3 linked regions of the Homo sapiens genome follow. The protein of the gene in region 2 purifies or fractionates together with the protein of the main gene of each other region. This does not show direct contact. Each region holds a gene or a part of one and is shown on either strand. Other genes may lie near its edges.

Region 1 (7,000 bases), on a different chromosome or scaffold from region 2:
CTCAAAAAATAAAATAAAATAAAACAAGGCATGACTCTGAAGGTGTTTTATCATACATAGTAGTTTGTCTCATTTTATCTATGAGCCAATCTTACAGAAAGATTTCTCAAAGAATGAAAACTCTGATTCTACCATTTTTACTATAAGCAGCTCATTGAAATTATTTTTTCAAATTATCAACACTTAATTTATCCTGAAATATTTTAATAGAAAATTTTGGAAGCCTCCTTTTATATATTCATAGGAATGAGTTCCATATATTGTTAGGATTGTGTAAAATTAAAAATGCCTGCATGGAAAGCGGCAGAGCAACAGACACGACGCAAACAGGCACAGTCTGAGCATCTGAACCACAAGTAAAAGGTGAGAGAAGTAAAAGATATTATTTTTAACCTGGTTATAAATCTCCCCAGGATGATTTATAGCCAGTAATGATAATGCATCTTTTATTGAAAAAGCTGATATAAAATCATCAATTTACTGTTGAGAGAAAAGAGGCCAAAGAAAACTCTTAAGAACCCTCACTGAGAAAACTTTATAAAACACTTTCCAGAAGCAGAACTAAGAAAAAAAAAAAATGGTGAAGAGGACTTCCTCTGGATAATTAAACCAAGGTCTCTTTATAAGACCAAAACAGAAATGGTGAATTTAAATAGTAACTGAATCTTAAGATTTCATTAAATCATACATTATCACTTTTTTTAAAGTGACCTAATACTTTAGTATGAGTTTTCGACACATCACCCCTTCTTACCATTAAATTTTTTAAGTTATTCTGAAATCTATAAATTTACTTATAGAATGTATTAAAAGCTAAGTATGTCAATATTTACAGAGCCTGCTAATAGGTATGAACTTTCAGAGAGATAAGAGGTCACCTGAAAATGCACCAACATTTCAGAAGCAAGCTTTCAAGTTAACAGTCAAAGCTTGGTTGGCATCACTGATAAATGCAAGTAAACAAGCTGGAATTTTTCTAAAGTGTAACAGCAGTGAATAAAATAGCAAGAACTATTTGCAAGATGGCATATAAATATGAAACAATATGCTGCGAATTTAGGACTTACAAAAATACTTCAGTGGTAAAGTGTCAAAAGAAAATTCTTTGATAAAGAGATTACATGCGAAAAGGGACTTTTTTTCTACCTTCCATTCATACTTCATGTATGTAAAGTTTACACTCAGATCTTACCTTCATGTATATAAAATTTACACTCTTACCTCCCTCCCATAACAAAAGTTAAATTATCTTAGAAATTAAGGCTTATATACCTGAATGTTTATATAAATACTTGCAGGCAAGTTTTAAGTTTTAAAATCCACAATAATTCCAAAAGGAAAAGCAACTAACAGATAAAACTTTTATCTCCTAATCAAGGTAAATAGAAAAAAAGAACTCTTAGATACTTCTAGATATTTTTTATATTTGGGTAGGACTTTGATCCTTGCTAAGGCAAAGCTATCTTAAAGCTACCAGACTAGCCAAAGTAAAATTAAATAGATAATTCACTAAATAAAATGGGTTAATTTTAGCTTCATTATTAAGAACATTAGACACGGCAGAGAATGCAAATTAACATTCTGAATAAAGACCTTAAATCAGGTTATTAATTGCTGCTAAGCCACATGAAATTAGACATCAATTAAACGCAGTAATATTTGTATCTTCCCTCTAATCCTTAATAAAGTTCTGTTCTTATGCAGAACTCTCAAAAACAAAACCCCTCAAATGACAATTACAAGAGTTGTGTAAAACATACATACATATGTAAACCTACAGTGAACCTGACCAAGGCACAAGTTCAAGTGACTTATCAGAGGTCACATGGTTCATTTAAACTTAGCTTTTTTCTTGAAGTATCTAGCGCATTCCTTTTATTATGAGCCACTCTGGCTTTTCAAGGCACGTTTGCCTCTTTTTCTAGAAAGAAGCTATAGGGACCAAAAAAAAAAAAAAAATAGAGCAAGTTGCAACAAAACTGTCAGCCTACTGGGTAAAAACCTCACATTTCAGAGTATGGTATATTTAAATATGACATGATTTTTCCACACTATGTGGCAACAGGATTCCCTATTGTAAATTTTTTTTGAGTGTAATGACATCATTTTCAGTTAGTCTTTAGTTCTGAAGTTTCTCCAAGTTCTGTAAACTTTTAAAAAAGGAATCCTTCTTGGCCGGGCACGGTGGCTCACGCCTGTAATCCCAGCACTTTGGGAGGCCAAGGCGGGCAGGCGGATCACAAGGTCAAGAGACCAAGACCATCCTGGCCAACATGGTGAAACCCCATCTCTACTAAAAATACAAAAAAATTAGCTGGGTATGGTGGCGTACACCTGTAGTCCCAGCTACTTGGGAGGCTGAGGCAGGAGAACTGCTTGAACCCGGCAGGCAGAGGTTGCAGTGAGCCAAGATCACACCACTGCACTCAAGCCTGGTGACAGAGCGAGACTCCAACTCAAAAAAAAAAAAAAAAAAAAAAAGAATCCTTCTCAAAAGAGTAAAGTATAAAAGAAATGTCAAGTTTCACCCGAAAACGGCACCTTTCATGAGGTTATCCTCCATCCCCTCCCCATCGTGTGTGCAAAACCATGGAATCAATCTTAAAAGGCACTAAGTGGCACATAAAGAACTTAAAAGCTGCATTTCCATTTTTCCTCTAGCTTCCTCCTCCATAAAGTGCACAAAGCAGAGTAATATGAAAATAGACACAGGCTTGCATCTATAACAGCAAGGAAAAGAAATGCTTCCAAGAGAAATGGAAGTGTGTTTAATAATTTGAAACCACAGGAGAGGTCTGCTCATTTATTACAGGGCCATGTTTTAGCTCTTCCTGGATCGTCTCAGATCTGCCATTCCTCTGGATATGAACCTGTGGCCGTGGCAGAAACCCAGAAATCAGTAGGGGCTTGTTGTGTTCTTGTTTGATCTTCACGTTAAGATGCTATTGAGCTTTTTTATCCATGGATGGTCTTCCAACAACTGCATCCCTCACAGTGGCCTGAGTGGAATTACCGATATGAGAAGAAGCCTGCAAAAGTCCATTTATTCAACATATAAGTTAATAAAATACAACACAGCAACAAGAAAGTAAGTCCTTAAACTTTCAAAAACCTGTCTCCATCATCGGCATGTTACAGAAAGCAGTTGAATGAAAATGCAGGGATACAGAGAGGCTGTGGCAGCAGCTAACTCCCAAGAGAGCCAGGGGAACATCTGCTCTGTGGCTAGGGTAGGATAGGCAGCTCCTGTGGCTTCACAAGCTGCTAACCCAACTCACCTGTTCATGTTACTCAGAAAAACAAATGTATCATCTCAAAGATCTACAAAACTTGTGACCATGTCAATGTCCAAGAGCTACTGGGTTAGTCAGGTGTGGTGGCACTCGCCTGTAACACCGGCTGCTTGGGAGGCTGAGGTGGGAGGATCACTTGAGCCCAGGAGTTTTAAGTTACAATGAGCTAAGATACCAGCCTGGGTGACAAAGCAAGACCTCGTCTCCAAAAAAAATTTTATAAATAAATAAATAAGCAACCCAATAAATAAATAACCAAGCCACTGGCTTTTGGAAGATTTTTAAATAAAAAAGATACCATCCCTTTCCTAATCCAGTAGGACTCAAAACCGAACATTTTTCGTTAAGTTCATAATTTTTTCAAAGTTCTTGCTTTTCAATGAAGTAAATTAATCTAGAGGGGGTGAGAAGTGAGAATCACATAAAAATTATGTCTGAAGAGCATGTAATTAGAAGTTGCCGACCAGGCGCAATAGCTCATGCCTATAATCCTAGCACTTTGGGAGGCCGAGGTGGGTGGATCACCTGAGGTCAGGAGTTCAAGACCAGCCTAGCTAACATGGCAAAACACTGTCTCTACTAAAAAAAAAAAAAAAAATACAGAAATTAACTGGGCATGGTGTCAGGCACCTATAATCCCAGCTACTCTTGGGAGGCTGAGGCAAGAGAATCACTTGAACCCAGTGGGCAGAGGTTGCAGTGAGCCAAGATCACACCACTTCACTCCAGCCTGGGCAAAAGCGTAAAAATCTGTCTCAAAAAAAAAAAAAAAAAAAAAAGTTGCCAAAGGGGAACACAATCAGTATGTCTAAGTTGGAATGTTTTTGCATTAAAGGGCTATTTTTGGGCTGGGCACGGTGGCTCACACCTGTAATCCCAGCACTTTGGGAGGCCGAGGCAGGCGGACCATGAGGTCAGGAGTTCGAGACCAGCCTGGTCAACATGGTGAAACCCTGTCTCTATTAAAAATACAAAAACTAGCGGGCCGTGGTGGCACACACCTGTAGTCTCAGCTACTTGGGAGGCTGACGCAAGAGAATCACTTGAACCTGGGAGGCGGAGGTTGCAGTGAGCCAAGATCATGCCACTGGACTCCAGCCTGGGCAAGAGAGCACAGCGAGACTTTGTCTCAAAAAAAAAAAAAAAAAGCGGGGCGGGGGCCTTTTTAGACATGGAAACAAAATATTAAGAATAAATATTAATATCCTAAAGGATAATAAAACATACAGTCTATCAGAAAACAACAGCCAACGGAGTGGCCACTGTCTCATGTCTTCACTATGAAATTCTTCCAAACTGAGATATTTTACAACAGAAGCACAAATATCTGCCCATTATCAACCCTCAGGCTCTTCAGCAGCACCACTTACCTGCTCCAACACATATGCGGCACCAAAATCAATAGCTCCGCCCAGCTCACGATATTGACCAGAATACCTGATGTAGCCCCAGGTGAGGAGTGCTATTAACAGTAGTCCAACCATACAGTTGAACAACTGGGCTACAACCTCAAGACCTATGAAGCCAGTGAGGCCTGAGGCTATGTACAAAGCTACAATGCCCGTGAACAGCACTGCAGGGGTTCGGAAGGTGCTGAAGACGTTCTTGCTACCATTGTGCTTGCAGAAGTTCTCATATAATTCCTTGATTTCCTCCTCCAGCTCCTGCTGGTAACGAAAGCTGAAATCCTTCCCACCCATCTTCTTGGTCTTCTTAAAATGGTCCAGAGCAAGTTGTTTGAATTCACAGTGCTTCTCCTCTAGAATGTCTGGAGACAAATAAGGTTTCTCTCCCCCACAAACCTAAAAAGAACAAAGAAACAATATGTTAAAAGATCTCTTCAAAAACAAGTGCCAAATAAAACATGAAAAGATAATGAAAGGATTAGAATGTTTTAAGATGTTAACAATGTATTAATAAGTTAACTTTTAAAAGATGACTAAGACCAATAAAGTCTAGTTTCACTTCCTCTGAAAAGCACACTTAAAAAACCAGGGTGATAATATCAATTGGAAAGAGCAGTGACACTGGGACGGGTGCGGTGGCTCACGCCTGTAATCCCAGCACTTTCGGAGGCCAGGGCGGGCAGATCACTTGAGGTCAGGAGTTTGAAATCAGCCTGGTAAACATGGTGAAACTCCGTCTCTACTAACACAAAAAAAATTAGCCGGGCGTGATGGCAGGCACCTGTAATCCCAGCTACTCAGAAGGCTGAGGCAGGAGAACCGCTTGAACCCGGGAGGCGGAGGTTGCAGTGAGCCGAGATCGCACCACTGCACTCCAGCCTGGGCGACAGAGTGAGACTCCGTCTCTAAAAAACAAAAGCAAACGGTCGACTTCTGCAGGGCCCAGGTGAGAAAGGCCCACCTGTGTCCTGGTTGAGGGTCCTCAGGGTTCTTTGGGACCCGAGGATTCCTGAAATCATGGATCACCCACATACGCTTTGAGACATGCTTTAATTTTTTTTTTCTGGAAGCCCTGCGACTTCCCTAAAAATTAAATGAATTATAGAACAGATCTATGACCAATGGTGGCAGAGTCTACATAGAACTATGCTTCGTGGTGCTCTGGGGAAACCTTCTGACTTGTTGGCTATGCTATTCAGTATGGCTGTATAGCTCACTGTGCTTCTGAATACGTTGGTGGTGTTGTCATGTGTTCTGGACCATCAATGGAGCCTACAATTCAAAATTCAGATACTGTCTTTGCACAAAATCTTAGTCGACATTTTGATAGTATCCAAAGAGGTGACATTGTGATTGCAAAAAGCCCAAGTGATCCAACATCAAATATTTGTAAAAGAGTAACTGGTTTGGAAGGAGACAAAATCCTCACCACTAGTCCATCAGATTTCTTTAAAAGCTACAGTTATGTCCCAGTGGGTCATGTTTGGTTAGAAGGTGATAAATCTACAGAATTCTACAGATTCCAGTTACTATGGACCTATTCCATATGAACTAATAAGAGGACGAATCTTCTTTTAAGATTCGGCCTCTGAGTGATTTTGGATTTTTATGTGCCAGCCTTAATGGCCACAGATTTTCTGATGATTAGTAAGCATTTATTCTTTTGACTTGATTATTGTCTCCTGCTCATGTGAATTTATTACTCCCATTGAAACTATGTACTTACCAATAAACTATTTGCTATTCAAAACAAAACAAAACAAAACAAGAACAAACAAACAAACAAAGAAATGGTAATAATTAGAAGGCCCCCGTTACCAGGACAACCTGAATATAAGTTTATTGCCTCATCACTTAAAGATACATTAAGTAGGATCAAGTTGGGCTTTTGAAGTCAGCAACAATGCCCAGATTATAGATATTTCAGAATAAGGCGTATGTCCCACGTACCTCTTCCATGTTGTTATAATAAATGTCCTTGGCAGAGGCTGCAGCTGCTAAGTTGTTGGCTTCAGCAGTGGCCTTTTAAGAGAGAAAAACGTGAACTGTAAATCCTTCCTCTTTTAACATTCCTCCACAAATAACCTAACAAAAATCTTCTCTATTCCCCATTCTTCCTTTTTTATTAACCTTCTATTTTTCTAGATTTCCATATAGTTCAACTGATGAAATAGAATACACTTTTTCTGCCAAATTTTCTACCAAAAAAAGGTAGAAGTTCATATACATAGAAATATGTATTCTTATACATAAGAATCTTTAGCAAAAATTAAATCTCCAAAATTCAAGGAAAATATTATT
Region 2 (7,014 bases):
GAACAGATGGAGCACAGCTTCTCTAGCTTGCATTCCAGGAAAGTTCTTGCAAGGAGCAGAGTTCAAGGTGTACAGATGATCGAAATGGGTGTATTTCTCAGCTCCTGCTAGATGGGCCTGAAGCCCTTTTGAATGTAGCTGAGCATGCCCTGACAGCACAGAGACACCAGGAGCCTGTGCAGTGGCACAGAGACACCAGGAGCCTGTGCAGTGGCACAGAGCTCCCAGGTTTACCAGGTTTAGGAATCCCTTCCCTGGAAAGCCTATAGTGGTCAGCAGACAAGTTGGATGGGTAACAGAGTTCATCACTGTGACTGGAAATGAGTCTCACCTGAAATGCAACAGCAGCTACTTTACACAGGTCTCTTGACCATCCTCAACATTCTTGGTGGCTGCAACCTTAGTAGGCTTTGACCATTAATTAAACTGACATGATTCACGAATTGGATAAAGGCTTTTGACAGTAGGAATAAACATCAGATGGGTAGATTGATTCCCTATCCTTAAGGAAAAGAACCACAGCTGGTTTGAGTATGATGTTTAATGTAAGATCCAGTGGCTTGGCAGAGTTGGTGCAAAACTGTAAAGTACCAGATTAAGTTCTAGTCAGTGAGTTAGCAGCCTAGGCACTTGGGCAAAAAAATTGGCCCTGCTGTCCCAAGTCCTCCAAAGCCCTCTCCGTATCACCAGCTAGGAGCTCCAAGACTGATATGCCACTACTTGGAGGCTTGAGTAGAATCCACGCGTCCTCAGTTTCCAAAGTGACAAGAGACTGGCCCCAGCCATCAAAGCAGTAGAATTTTCAGGACAGGGTTGAGGACAGTGGGGACAGAACTGGACATGGGGGCCTGAGCTGCTGAACATTTGCTACATGCAGTAGTCTAAGAGGCTCACAGCTGGAGAGGTTAGCCTGTCCACCTTCCCACCCATGTGTGGTAGGGAAGAAGGTGACCATCTAGTTAAAGAAAAAAAGATCCTTCCAAAGCTGTATTTGGCATAAGCTAATACCACTGCTAGTGCTGCCACTGGCCAGGCACAGATACAGAAGGCCCTGAGGAGTTGGGAGGAAGGGAGAACAATGTGCAGGCAAAGCAGGAAACAGCCAGCTCAGGTCCCCGCCCCAGGGGCCCAGAAGGATAAAGGCCGTGCAGTAAAGGGAACATACGGTTCTTCTCTTTGGTCAGGCAAAGGCCCGAATATGGGCCTGTTAGGTGAAAGGGCTGAAGGGCACAGGCTCTGCCCTTGGACCCTAGCTTTAGGCTCATCACATTGAGGCGGTGATGGAGCGAGACGAAGGCAGGAAGACAGAGCAGTCAGGCTGGGACTCGCCAGCTCCTAGGAGCTGCCCTTGTCCTTGTTGTCCATCAGGTCATACCTGTGAAAAGAGGGCTCATGTAGAAAGATGACTCTTGTGTCATCATATTTATAAATGAGACACGATCCAAGGGCTTCTCTACTTGATAGAATCAATGGTTCTCTGCTCAGATTGTATCTTTTTTTCCTTTCCTGTGATTGGAATTTCTCCCACTGAAATATCCAGACCATCCCCCACCCACGCAGACACTCACCACCGGGCTACACCCTGGGAAAGGTCTGTCTCAGCTAGGTCCAGCTGCACCTGTGTTGGAAGATGATAGGGGAAAGATGTTATTTCTTTTATTTTTTGAGACAGGATCTCATTCTGATGATGCTGTTTTGAAATCTCCAAAGACCATGTTCCTTCATCACATACTCGTCCCAAACCATTGCAGAGGTGAGTCACCTCTAAAGGATCACGTGGGGTACTTCCTTCCTCACAGGGACTATAACCTTGGTGCCAGCAGCTTCCAGCCCTCACCTCTGCCCTGCCATCCTGCCCTCTTACCTTCCCCAGCAGCTCACGCTCTCTTGACATGAAGGAGGAATTAGACTTGACAGAGACATCCAGCTTTCGTCTCTGGGCCTCATCCAGGGGGAGTTCCCACTCAAACCTGGGGTAGGACTGGATGTTAGGGGCCAGGAGTCCTTTCCAAGCCTGCCATCTCTCCACCTGAATGCCCACTGACTGACCGTTCATTAAATTCAGGACTCAGGGTCCTCTTCTTCTGTGAGGTCCTCCTCTTGGTGCCTCGGTTCTTGTCTGGCAGTAGCAACAGTGACACATAGGGATCAGGAGGATCACGTCCATTCTGTCGAAGGGACCTACAACAGGAGGATGTAGGTGATATGGTAACCTGAGGGAAGGGATGGAGGCGATCTGGAGGACAGGAGGGATGGGGTCTCACCGGCAACCATGAACAATGCTGACCAGCTTTCGTTCTTCACTGTAGTACCACAGAGTCAGTTTCACCTGGCCCAGAGGCCCGGCTGGAGCCTCAAGGGGACTGTGGAGAAATATCAGTAGGTCTGGGGAAAGCTAGAGCCTAGTGAACCTGTAATACTTTTTATTTCTGACTGCGTCCCACCTTCCTGTCCCAGCCCTTTACCTGTCAACATGTGTTAGGCGCTGCCGGAGCTCTGGGGCTGAGGAGGTGATGTGAGGGGGTCCCCCCGAGAGCTCTGGTTCTTCACTCAGCGATGAGGAGCTGTGGCTGTAGCTGTGGCTATGAGCTTCCACTCCCGAGTGCTGGGACACCAGGATCTAGGGGCAAGAAAGCTGTGAGCTGGGCAGAGTTCTCTCAGTTCCCTCACTCTAAGGACACGGCCCTCTGTTCCCACCCTCCTGGGTGTCCCTCACCTGTGAAGGCCCTCCCCTCCTCCCTCTCATCCTGCCCACCATCTCCTGTCACTCACCCCTAGCTGTGCTCTCAGTAGCACCTGCCCCTGACCACTGCTGAGTGTAAACCAGCGGTCCAAGCAGAGCTGGTCAGCCACGAGGAGCTCTGAGAGGGGCAGGGATAATGAGCCCAGCACGCCAGTGCCCTCACCCCGAACCTGTGGGGCAACAGGACCATGATCAAGAGGCGAATGCATCAACAAATGAGTTAATCCTGGTGTTTTAAAGGTCCAAACGCTTGGACTCATAGGTGGTTTGGTGAGATTTCCCTTTGAGAAAGGCAGGGAAGCCATGGTAACAGTTGCTAGTCCCTCCCTCTGTCCTTCCTTCCTTTTTTTTTTTTTTGAGACAGAGTTTCGCTCTTGTTGCCCAGGCTGGAGTGCATGGCGTGATCTGGTCTCACCGCAACCTCCGCCTCCCAGGTTCAAGCGATTCTCCTGCCTCAACCTCCTGAGTAGCTGGGATTACAGGCACCTGCCACCACGCCCAGCCAATTTTGTATTTTTAGTAGAGCTGGGGTTTCTCCATGTTGGTCAGGCTGGTCTCAAACTCCCAACCTCAGGTGATCCACCCACCTCAGCCTCCCAAATTGCTAGGATTACAGGTGTGAGCCACTGTGTCTGGCCTGTCCTTCCTTTCTTAACCAGAGTAGAGTGGACCATCTTTACCTCATAAACTTTCAGAAATTATTATTATTATTTTTGAGACGGAGTCTCGCTCTGTTGCCCAGGCTGGAGTGCAGTGGCGCAATCTCAGCTCACTGCAAGCTCCGCCTCCTGGGTTCACGCCATTCTCCTGCCTCAGCCTCCCAAGTAGCTGGGACTACAGGTGTCCGCCACCACACCCGGCTAATTTTTTGTATTTTTAATAGAGACAGGGTTTCACCGTGTTAGCCAGGATGGTCTCGATCTCCTGACCTTGTGATCTGCCCGCCTTGGCCTCCCAAAGTGCTGGGATTACAGGCGTGAGCCACCGCGCCCAACCTAGCTTTCAGAAATTATACCAGTAATACCTACAGCATACAGAAAACAACAGTAAAAACAGAACTAAAAGTAAATGTTTCTTGCCCATCCTACTCCTATTGCCATATTCCAAATGTAACAACCTTTAAAACCCTCCTGTTTTCTTTGTTCTCACGGAATTCTAATATGCTTGTATCTATTGATTCCCTGCTATAAAAGATGAAGAACTGAGCTCATTTGTACCTCCTTTCTACTCTGCTAGCATTAAGTTACATTATTTTAAATTCTATTAATTTCAGCCGGGCACAGTGGTTCACACCTGTAAGATGGCTCATGGCCATCTTTTGTCTCCTCACTCTCCACGCTGCCTAAGAGATCTCACCCATGACTACACTTATGAGTGGTTGCTTGCTCATGATGTTCCAATAAGAGGGCAAGGGAGGAACACCTCATGGACAATAGATTTGTTTTCTGCATGTCTTCTCTTGGATGTCCTGCAGAGATCTCAAATTCCAAAATTCCCTCTCTGTGCACTCCCTAAGTCAGCAACGGCACCCTTATCCATCTAGCCACCCTGTGCCAAAAACCCCAGAGTTAGTGTCTAGGCTGTTCCTTGCTCCTCCACCTGCTCCATATCACAGCAATCTTCAAATCCCATCAGGCTTTAGTCGTTTCCTGCTTTGACTGCTCTAACAGTCTCCTCACTGATCTCCCTGCCCCCAGTGTTGTCCCTCTCCAGTCCATTCTTTACCCTCTTATCCCTATGATCTTCCCAAAATGCAAATCTGGATATGTGACCTCTCATTAAAGGCTTCCCTGACTGGGTGTGGTGGCTGACGCCTGTAATTCCAGCACTTTGGGAGGCCGAGGCAGTGGATCACTTGAGGTCAGGACTTAGAGACCAGCCTGACCAACATGGTGAAACCCCGTCTCTCTTAAAAATACAAAAATTAGCTGGGCGTGGTGGCGGGCACCTATAATCCCATCTACTCGGGAGGCTGAGGCAGGAGAATCGATTGAACCCAGGAGGGAGGTTGCAGTGAGCTGAGATCGTATCACTGTACTCCAGCCTGGGCAACAGAGCAAGACTCTGTTTCAAAAAAATAATAAATAAAATAAACAAAGGCTTCCCTAAGCCTTAGGATAAAATCCATATTTCTAGCATACTATTCAACAGCTCCTATGATCTTGCTCTGCCTGCCTCTCTGATCTATAATAAATATGCCTTCTCTCTCCTCCATTTTTTTTCTCAGCCTAAAGAGTTTTCCTGCTCTTCTTTTCGTGGTCCGAAAGAACCAGTAAATCTACCCTTAGGCTGGGGCGCGGTTCTCACGCTTGTAATCCCAGCACTTTGGGATGCCGAGGCGGGCAGAATGCTTGAGTCCAGGAGTTCGAGACCAGCCTGGATGACATGGTAAAACCTCATCTCCACAAAAAAATACAAAAATTAGCTAGGTGTGGTAGTGTGCACCTGTTATCCCAGCTGAGGTAGGAGGATTGCTAGAGCCCAAGAGTTGAGGCTGTAGTGAGCCCTGATTGCACCACGGCACTCCAGCCTGGGCGACAGAGTAAGACCCTGTCTAAAAAAAAAAAGGCCGGGTGCAGTGGCTCACACCTATAATCCCAGCACTTTGGGAGGCTGAGGTGGATGGATAACCTGAGGTCAGGAGTTCAAGACCAGCCTGGCCAACATGGCAAAACCCCGTCTCTACTAAAAATTGGTGGGGTATGGTGGCACGCGCATGTAATCCCAGGTACGCGGGAGGCTGAGGCAGGAGAATCGCTTGAACCTGGAAGGCTGAGGTTGCAGTGAGCTGAGATTGCGCCACTGCACTCTAGCCTGGGCAATAAGAGTGAGACTCTAGTCTCAAAAAAAAAAAAAAAAAATCTACCCTCAAGCTCAGGGGTCATCTAAGGATGCCTTTCTATCTCCAGCCTTTCCCCAGCCTGAACCCTTCCTTTCTTCCCCACAGTGCCTTTTACCTCAGTTATCATTCTGAAAGTTTCATCTGGTTATTTTTCTCCCAAAACAGAGTGTGAGCTCCATAAAGATAAGAAGTCAATCTTTTGGCCGGGTGCGGTGGCTCACACCTGTATTTCCAGCACTTTGGGAGGCCGAGGTGGGCGGATCACCTGAGGTCAGGAGTTCGAGACCAGCCTGGCTAACATGGTGAAACTCCATCTCTACTAAAAAAAATGCAAAAATTAGCCAGGTGTGGTGGCGGGCACCTGTAGTCCCAGCTACTTGGGAGGCTGAGGCAGGAGAATGGTGTGAACCCAGGAGGCGGAGCTTGCAGTGAGCCAAGATAGCACCACTGCACTCCAGCCTGGGCGACAGAGCAAGACTCTGTCTCAAAAAAAAAAAAAAAAGTCAACCTTTTATCTCATCTCTGAATGCTCTGTGCCTGGTTTCCTGCCTGGCCATGGCAGAAATCTGCTAAATATTTGAAGAATGAATTTACAGTACCTGCAACTCTAGGCTCTCAGTGTGTGGTTTCCTGATGAGAAAGGAGGCACTCTCATCCCAGACAGGGGCTGAAGTTTGCGAAATAGTCTGGTGGAGATGAGGGCTTATGATCAGTAGCTGATACTCTTATTTCTCTTATCCCTCCCATTTTTACCCTGCAGCATTTCTTCATACCTTGGTTTTATGAGAACTATCTCCCACAGTGAGAGTAGCATAAGGGCTGAGGTGCTTGGTGCCTTTTCGCAGCTAGAAAGACAATACTGTGTTAGTCTTAAATTTGGACCTAGTTAGGCAGATCCCCCTCACAAATTATATCCACAGCCAGCAGCCATGTCTCCATTATTACTTGGCAGCCACTACCCGTGGCCTTGAACAGACAACTTTTCCCACCCCTGCACTACCCTCAGAAAGAGAGGGGCCATTTTTCTTATTCTAAATACTCCAGGACCATCCAAACCGGAGGAAGGTGGAAGAAGGGCCAGGAAGTTATGGGGCATGGGGAGCGGGATCTCACCGGGAGGTCCTCTGCCCGCTCCATATAGATGGATAGCAGGGCCGCAGCCAGCTCCGCACTCTTCTGAGTCTGGATCAAACTATTCACCTGCAGCACCTGTGGAGGGGCACACGGGGCTGGGGAGTGGTAACTGACACCTTGGGTTCTGGCATGTGCCTTGAACGCTAAGAGAAGAGCTCATCCTGCCCCACCTTGGGTCCCTTCCTTCCTCAAGTCTCCTGCCCTACCTCCTCTAACTCAGCAGCAGTGGGACGGGGGGTGAGACGCTCCAGGCGCAAGTGCAGGCGGCCAGATGGGACATCCTCCAGGGTCAGCC
Region 3 (7,000 bases), on a different chromosome or scaffold from region 2:
ACTCACACCTAAGACACATAGGTACATACTATGTGTTCTGTGCATGGTTCATAAGTAACTCAGTTGCTACAATTCAAACTAGCCAAATGACATAAAATTAAGTAATAGTATGTCTTCACAGCATTGGCTTTATTATTCAAACCAGTTGTACCAATATCAACTATTTACCAGAGACTGACAGTGTGGAAAAAAAAGCAGTTCATTAAAATATATCTATATATCCATTTATACCCATATATATTTTAATTTTATCCATATATATGGATAAAAAGCTTTAAGATGTCCTATTGGTAAAGAACAGAAAGGAATCATCTTCTGGTCCATCTGCTTTATATTTTATTTCTAATGTGGTAACTTATGTTTAATAGCAAATATTCCAGAGGTTAAGATAGGTTCTTTGGAAATTGAATATGAAGAACATGGACCATAATGTTTATAATCCTTTTTGTTATGGCAGACACATAACTTGACCATCCTCCATGCCCACCATGCATGGGATTGCTTTTGGCTGTATTTATCAGAGAGTATGATGTAGGAATTCTTAGTAATTCAAAATGGTTTTCCTATTATCAGTACCTCAAATAAGAAGGAAAAAAGAATCAGACATTTTAAGACATAAACACTAGTTCGTTTCCATGCCAATAAGGAAAATATTTTTCTCCTTCATAGAAAAAAAGAAGGCAGGAAACTATGCGTGATCAGAAAGTTACATATCTTTTTCACTGCAGAGTATATGTGCTTTTAAAGCAAGAGAGAAAACCAACAAACAGTACGAGAAAGACTAATGAAAGACTGACCGGGCACAGTGGCTCATGTCTGTAATCCCAACACTTTGGGAGGCCAAGGCAGATGGATCACCTAAGGTCATGAGTTCAAGACCAGCCTGGCCAACATGGTGAAACCCCATCTCTATTAAAAACACAAAAAATTGGTGGCAGATGCCTGTAATCCCAGCTACTTGGGAGGCTGAGGCAGGAGAATCGCTTGAACCCGGGAGGTGGAGGCTGCAGTGAGCTGATTGCGCCACTGCACTCCAGCCTGGGCAACAAGAGGGAAACTCCATCAAGAAAGAAAGACAGAAAGAAAGAAAGACAGACAGACAGAAAGGAAAAGAAAGAAAAGAAAGAAAGAAAGGAAAGAAAGAAGAAAGAAAGAGAAAGAAAGAGAAAGAAAGAAAAAAAGAAAAGAAAAGAAAAAAGATTACAGAGGCAGTGGAGTGAGAATAGCTAGAGCCTGGGAGGTCAAGGCTGCAGTGAGTCATGATTGCACCACTGCACTGCAGCCTGGGTGACAGAGTATGACCCTGGCTAAAAAAAAAAAAAAAAAAAAAAAAAAATTAAGATGAGTCTATAGAATACCTATAATGAAGTATAAAGAAAAAAATGCAGTCATTCAGTGGTCAAATCTTTTGGTGTTTAATTACAGTGATCTCATTTACCACTATCCACCATTTTGTTTTTAAATGCAAAATGGAAGAGTCAGTCACAGTCAAATATAACAATGCGGAATGTGGACAGACATCCCTACACTTAAGACTGAATTGGTCCCAACACACCTGTGACCTATGTCAATTAACTTCAGTTTGTGGCCTTGATTTCCACATCTGTTACAGGTGGCTATCACCCTAGCAGCTTAGTCTCTAAGACCCCTTTTAGCTAACATTTTATAACTCAAAACTGAATGTGTGTGTGTTTGTGTGTGTGTGTGTGTGCACCCAGGAGTTTGAGACCAGCCTGGGCAACATGGCAAAACCCCATCTCTACAAAAAATACAAAAAATTAGTACACACCTGTAGTCCCAGCTACTCCAGAAGCTGAAGTGGGAGAATCACCTGAGCTTGAGAAAGTCAAGGCTGCAGTGAGCTGTGTTCATGCCATTGCACTCAGCCTGGGTGACAGAGTGAGACCCTGTCTCAAAAAAAACACACTCAAAAAAACCAGGCTGGAGTGCAGTGGCGCAATCTCGGCTCATTGCAACCTGTGCCTCCTGGGTTCAAGCAATTCTCCTTCCTCAGCCTCCCAAGTGTGTGTGTGTTTTTTTGAGACAGGGTCTCACTCTGTCACTCAGGCTGAGTGCAGTGGCATCAACACAGCTCACCACAGCCTTGACTTTCTCAAGCTCAGGTGATTCTCCCACTTCAGCTTCTGGAGTAGCTGGGACTACAGGCGTGTACTAATTTTTTGTATTTTTTGTAGAGATGGGGTTTTGCCATGTTGTCCAGGCTGGTCTCAAACTCAAGCAATCCACCCATCTCAGCCTCCCTGCCTGTCCCCCCAAAAAAACTGTTTGAATGATTGATGGTAAAAAAGATTAATGCCAGGAGCAATAAAAGAGCAGATGCAAATCCCACTGGGACAACCCTTTGTCAATAAAACCAGTGGTTCTATAAGTATCTGTGTCAGATTGGTATCATAAAGTTTAACTTAATCTCAAGTAACCTCACAACTTAGAAGGGGAACAACCTAAGCTGCCTTTTCCTAGGTAAAGGAGGGCCACCTTAGATGCGGACCGCAGTCTAGACAAGTGAGCGATCCCTTAACTAGATCACTTGGTCTATCAGAGGCTGCAGGATATATATAGTAGACACATGACTCAGAGTGACTGATAAGCTCCACTCCCTGGAATCAGGAAAGTGTGCAAGTGACAGAATGAAGTCAGGGTACGTTTCTACAGCCCCCACTTATATTTCAGCTGCTACAAAAAGTAATTTCATTCACAATTTTGAAATTGTTTTAAAACTTCTGCCATATTAATTCATACTTCCCCAAAATTAATTGTTAATGTTATGAATCACCACTAAATACCTTAACATGTTATATTTGTATTTATACTTGTTTTAAATGCCATGTGAAAAAATTAAGTTGAAAACTGAGTCCTCATTCAAAGTCAGTCCTGAAAAAGAGAAGTCCAGGTCAGAAGGAGATGAGGGAGGCTACGACAGAAAGAAGGACAAATAGACTAAATCTCCAGGGCCTTCATAAAGAGAAAAAAAAAAGCTCATAAGGAACATTCCAGAATAGAGTATTAGAAATGAGATCCTCCTCCACAACTGCTTTAGAGCCCAGAAACTCTGATCATGAATAAATAATTTAAATCATTCATCTTATTTGCTTTTTAAAACTTTATTTTCTTTATGACACAGGCAAGCGGGCGAACCTTAACTGAAACGCTGGCTGTCATTATTTTACAAAATAGTCACAAGTTGTTATAAGGATATTTTTATTACTTTTTCATTTCTCCACAACACTTTCATCTTAAAAGAGTCCAGCACTCTTAGCAGTAATGTTAAGTGAAACAAGGACAGTAAAAAAGTTGAGGAAGGTTAAATGTTTAAATGCTTAAGATTTCAGATTTAAATTAAGTAAATTAAAGATTTAAATGTTTAAGTAAATTGCTTAAGTCACAGTTTGCAGAATGCCTGTTATATTTTTTATCCAAGTGCACATCGGCCAGAAGGCCACATTGGCTTGTGCTTCATACTACCCCAGAAGGCAAAGCGCAGGCATGCATTGCTCTGCTCTTCAACACTTTAACAAAGCACATATAGATCCAGAGAGAAAAGCTAGTGTAATGGGAACATAGGCAGCTCAGTAGAAAATACATCTGCTCTGAAGTTCTCATGAGTAAAAAAGAACAAAACATAATTACAATTTAAAAAAAAAAAAAAAAACCCACAAGAAAACAAATACACCCCCTACTAATGAGTCCAAGAAGAGAACTACAAATACACATCCTCCAGTACTGTTAAGGAAACAGCTCTGCTTCCAGTGACTAGCTGCAAAACAGAAAGTGTCTGTTCACAACTGTCATTCACACCACGGTGACTTTCTCAAAGTCTCCTCTGGGTAATAAACCTCTTTAGGAGTCTGTCAATGCACACCTTAAGCAAGTAGACTGCAACTCTTTTTAACTTGTGTTCCCCAGAATGTGTCCTCCCTTTGTGTGCTGAGCATCATTTAGCTAAGAGGATGCTGTTGCTTTTACTTGTGGTTAACTGTGTTACAACTCTTGTAGATATTTTCATTGTTTTTTTTCTTCAAATTAACCTTCTTGCCATCCCTTTCTGATCTGACCTCGATAGGGGTCATCCCCAAACATCTTCCCTTGAGATACTTGTCTCTTGAAACAGAACTAAAGGCAACGCTGCATCCCCTTAGGAAATCCAGTTCAGTGTGCCATTTTCAGGTGGCCTTGTGCTAGTAAAACAGAGCAAGCCTCTGCTGTCATAAGTCAAAGCTACATAACAGATAAGAAAAGTTGTTAGTAACATATTCTAACTAATGTCTACAAAACACAGTCAATGCCTATGTGTGCAGATATATGATTTGGGATGACAGTACCTTATTTGAGAGGAAAAATACACTGCACAAAGGTAATGTATTGACAGGGTCAACTGTTTTTTTGAAAGGCCTACATTTTTTAATTTTCATCTCTACATAAGGTGATGTTGTGTTTGTGGGACATTCAAAGAGCCACAAGGGAGGTAGCATAACGTAATCATTAAAAGCATGAAATTTGGAGCCAGATTCTTTGGATTTAAATACCAGTTTCATCATCTGCTAGTTGTGAGACCTTGATCAAGTTATTCAAATTCTCTTTCTGTGTTTCCTCATCTGTAAAAATGGGAATAATCATAGCACTTACATAATAGGGTTGTTCTGAGGATTAAATGAGCTATATTTGCAAAGCACTTAGACAGAGATATGTACATATCTGTTAAATAAAATGCTACACAGATTTCAGGAGTCATACAAAGAGCTAAATGCAATATAACTCTTTACACCAGCAGCAAAAGTTTAAAATGGGCTTGTGAGGACACACAGAAACTAAAATGACACATTACTGAACTGGGTATGAGATTTCAAAAGTGTTGTTAAAGATTAAATATATAGTGCTGGACTCTCGTCTTGAACTCCTGGCCTCAAGCAATCCCTCTGCCTCAGCACCCCAAAGTGCTGAGATTACAGATGTGGGCCATCATGCCCCGCCCCCTAAACATATTTAATCTTTCTAACATTGGCACTAAAATATGCCTAAATGTGCTTTACATTCCTGTGTAGTTCCAGACCAAGCCTGGCCTCTGTGTGACCTTGGGAAACACACTCCACCTTTCTCTGTCCCTGAATTGTCATTTTAAAACTAAAGGAACTGGACTACCTGTTTGATCTTTAAGGCCCAACTCTGATAGTCCCAGGAAGGTGGCAGCCCAAGTCTTAAGGAAAATATGAAATAAAAAGAGGAAAAGTAATAGACATTTTTATAGAATTTTAAGCAAAAAAGTTACTGGGTAGGACAGAAAGCAAACCTTCCCCTTTCCTTAAATAGAAGATAAAGTCTGAGTTTGCCTCACAATTCCATTTGTACAAAGGAGCAAGTACAGGACTAGGGCCCTGGCTCACTAGCGCCCACCCTGGAGGGACTGCACCAGGAGGACTTACTCACATATGAGGGTGCAGCACAGCATACACCCTCCAGAGGACTCTTATTTGTGCAATCCCATTAGAAGCAGGGCTGCACCAGACATTAAAGGCCATATATTGTATGATTCCGTCTACATGAAATGCTCAGAATAGGCAAACTCATAGAAACAGAATGCAGATTAGTGGTTTCCAGGGGCTGGGTAGGAGGAATAGGGAGTGATTGGTGATGGTTTCCCTTTGGGGTGATAAAAATGTTTTGGAATTAGACAGTGGTGATGGTTACACAACTCTGAACATACTAGCCACTGAACTGCATACTTTAAAAGTGTACAATTTATAAGTATCTAAATTATATCTTAGCAATGGGGGGAGGTCTATCTTTATAATAAACATTTCCAGTAGTCTGCCTCCTGTTATCAGTAAAAGAGGGAAGTAAGGAGATTAAGGTAATTATGTCAACAGTTCTTGATGAAAGGAAGGCTGGAATTAGATTCCGAATTGCCTATATAAGATGGCCAAAAATTCTAGAAACTAGAAGTCAGAGATGAAAGACCCTGTTCTCAAAGAGCTCAAAGGGAAATTATGCACACGGAAAGAACAACCAGTAGGAAGAGGGGTATACAATAAGGTACTGGTTGCTCCCCAGTGAGCACTGGGCAAGTCTTCAACCATCTACATGCTCCAACGTGCAGCAGACCCTGACCAGGAGCCAGGTGCACCTGAGCTTCACTCACAGACTTCCAAAGGGAGTCCAAAGGGAGAAAAGCTAGGAAGCCAAGTGAGCTTTTCCCAATTTCATCTTTGCATCCTGCAGTCTCTTGACCCAATACTGACACTACTCCCCTTCTTGTGATGGCCCAAGGAGAGGAAACAGCAAGAGAAAGGCTGAAAGGTGAGAAAGGAAGGAAGTAAATTACTGGCAATAGTTTGGCAAGATCGCGAACTCCTTACAGAGGTCACAGCAGCCAAAGTGACCTTAAAATATAAATCGTATCATGTCACCCCCTATTTAAAACCCATCCAAGGCAATCAGAAAATGCAAACTCCCTACCACCATCTGGAATGAAATGCACACTTCTACCACTGACCCTACCTGCTGGCACCTGCACCTCTCTGGTGCCTCCCCCACCACTCTTTGCTCACACAGAGCTAAGCTGTGTGCTGCCTCAGGGCCTGACACACTCTTCTCCCTCTCCCTGGCTCTGCTCTTGGCTGGCCCCTTCTCATTCCTCAGGTCTTCTCTACCAGAACTGTTTATTTACTTTAGAGGGCTTACCACACGGTCACTACTTTGCCTATTTCTTGCCTGGGTAGACTGCTCATTCAACAAGGACAGAGAGTATGACTACCTTATTTCTTGCCATATCTAAAGTGCTACCACAGTGCCACACATGTGACTGGCATTTGATTTTTGCTAAATAGATGAACCTGTATTTTAAAAAATAACTCTGGCTAGGGAGCATAAGAGTTACAAGAGGTATGGAGAATAGTTAAAATGAAGGTGACTGCTATGGTCTGAATGTTGTGTTCCCCCAACATCCATATGTTGGGACCTAATACCCAATGTATTAGTATTAAAT

Evidence for each region.
Region 1: the proteins of ESYT1 (region 2) and ATL3 purify together in Homo sapiens (affinity purification with mass spectrometry; 3 studies listed by BioGRID and IntAct, with this or other methods). This does not show direct contact.
Region 3: the proteins of ESYT1 (region 2) and REEP5 purify together in Homo sapiens (affinity purification with mass spectrometry; 2 studies listed by BioGRID and IntAct, with this or other methods). This does not show direct contact.

The regions. Positions count from the first base shown.
Region 1 is NC_000011.10:63,626,377-63,633,376, forward strand, and holds part of ATL3 (atlastin-3), read right to left. Parts: intron 6,722-7,000; coding exon 6,650-6,721; intron 6,447-6,649; exon of another isoform or gene 5,818-6,446; intron 5,096-5,817; coding exon 4,664-5,095; intron 3,030-4,663; coding exon 2,943-3,029; 3' UTR 1-2,942. UniProt on the Homo sapiens protein: Atlastin-3 (ATL3) is a membrane-anchored GTPase that mediates the GTP-dependent fusion of endoplasmic reticulum (ER) membranes, maintaining the continuous ER network. It facilitates the formation of three-way junctions where ER tubules intersect.
Region 2 is NC_000012.12:56,138,184-56,145,197, reverse strand, and holds the end of ESYT1 (extended synaptotagmin-1), read right to left. Parts: coding exon 6,926-7,014; intron 6,795-6,925; coding exon 6,699-6,794; intron 6,431-6,698; coding exon 6,359-6,430; intron 6,272-6,358; coding exon 6,185-6,271; intron 2,914-6,184; coding exon 2,773-2,913; intron 2,621-2,772; coding exon 2,466-2,620; intron 2,364-2,465; coding exon 2,265-2,363; intron 2,182-2,264; coding exon 2,050-2,181; exon of another isoform or gene 1,971-2,049; coding exon 1,865-1,970; exon of another isoform or gene 1,673-1,864; intron 1,619-1,672; coding exon 1,569-1,618; intron 1,376-1,568; coding exon 1,336-1,375; 3' UTR 524-1,335; downstream 1-523. UniProt on the Homo sapiens protein: Binds calcium (via the C2 domains) and translocates to sites of contact between the endoplasmic reticulum and the cell membrane in response to increased cytosolic calcium levels.
Region 3 is NC_000005.10:112,912,228-112,919,227, forward strand, and holds part of REEP5 (receptor expression-enhancing protein 5), read right to left. Parts: intron 1-7,000. UniProt on the Homo sapiens protein: Plays an essential role in heart function and development by regulating the organization and function of the sarcoplasmic reticulum in cardiomyocytes.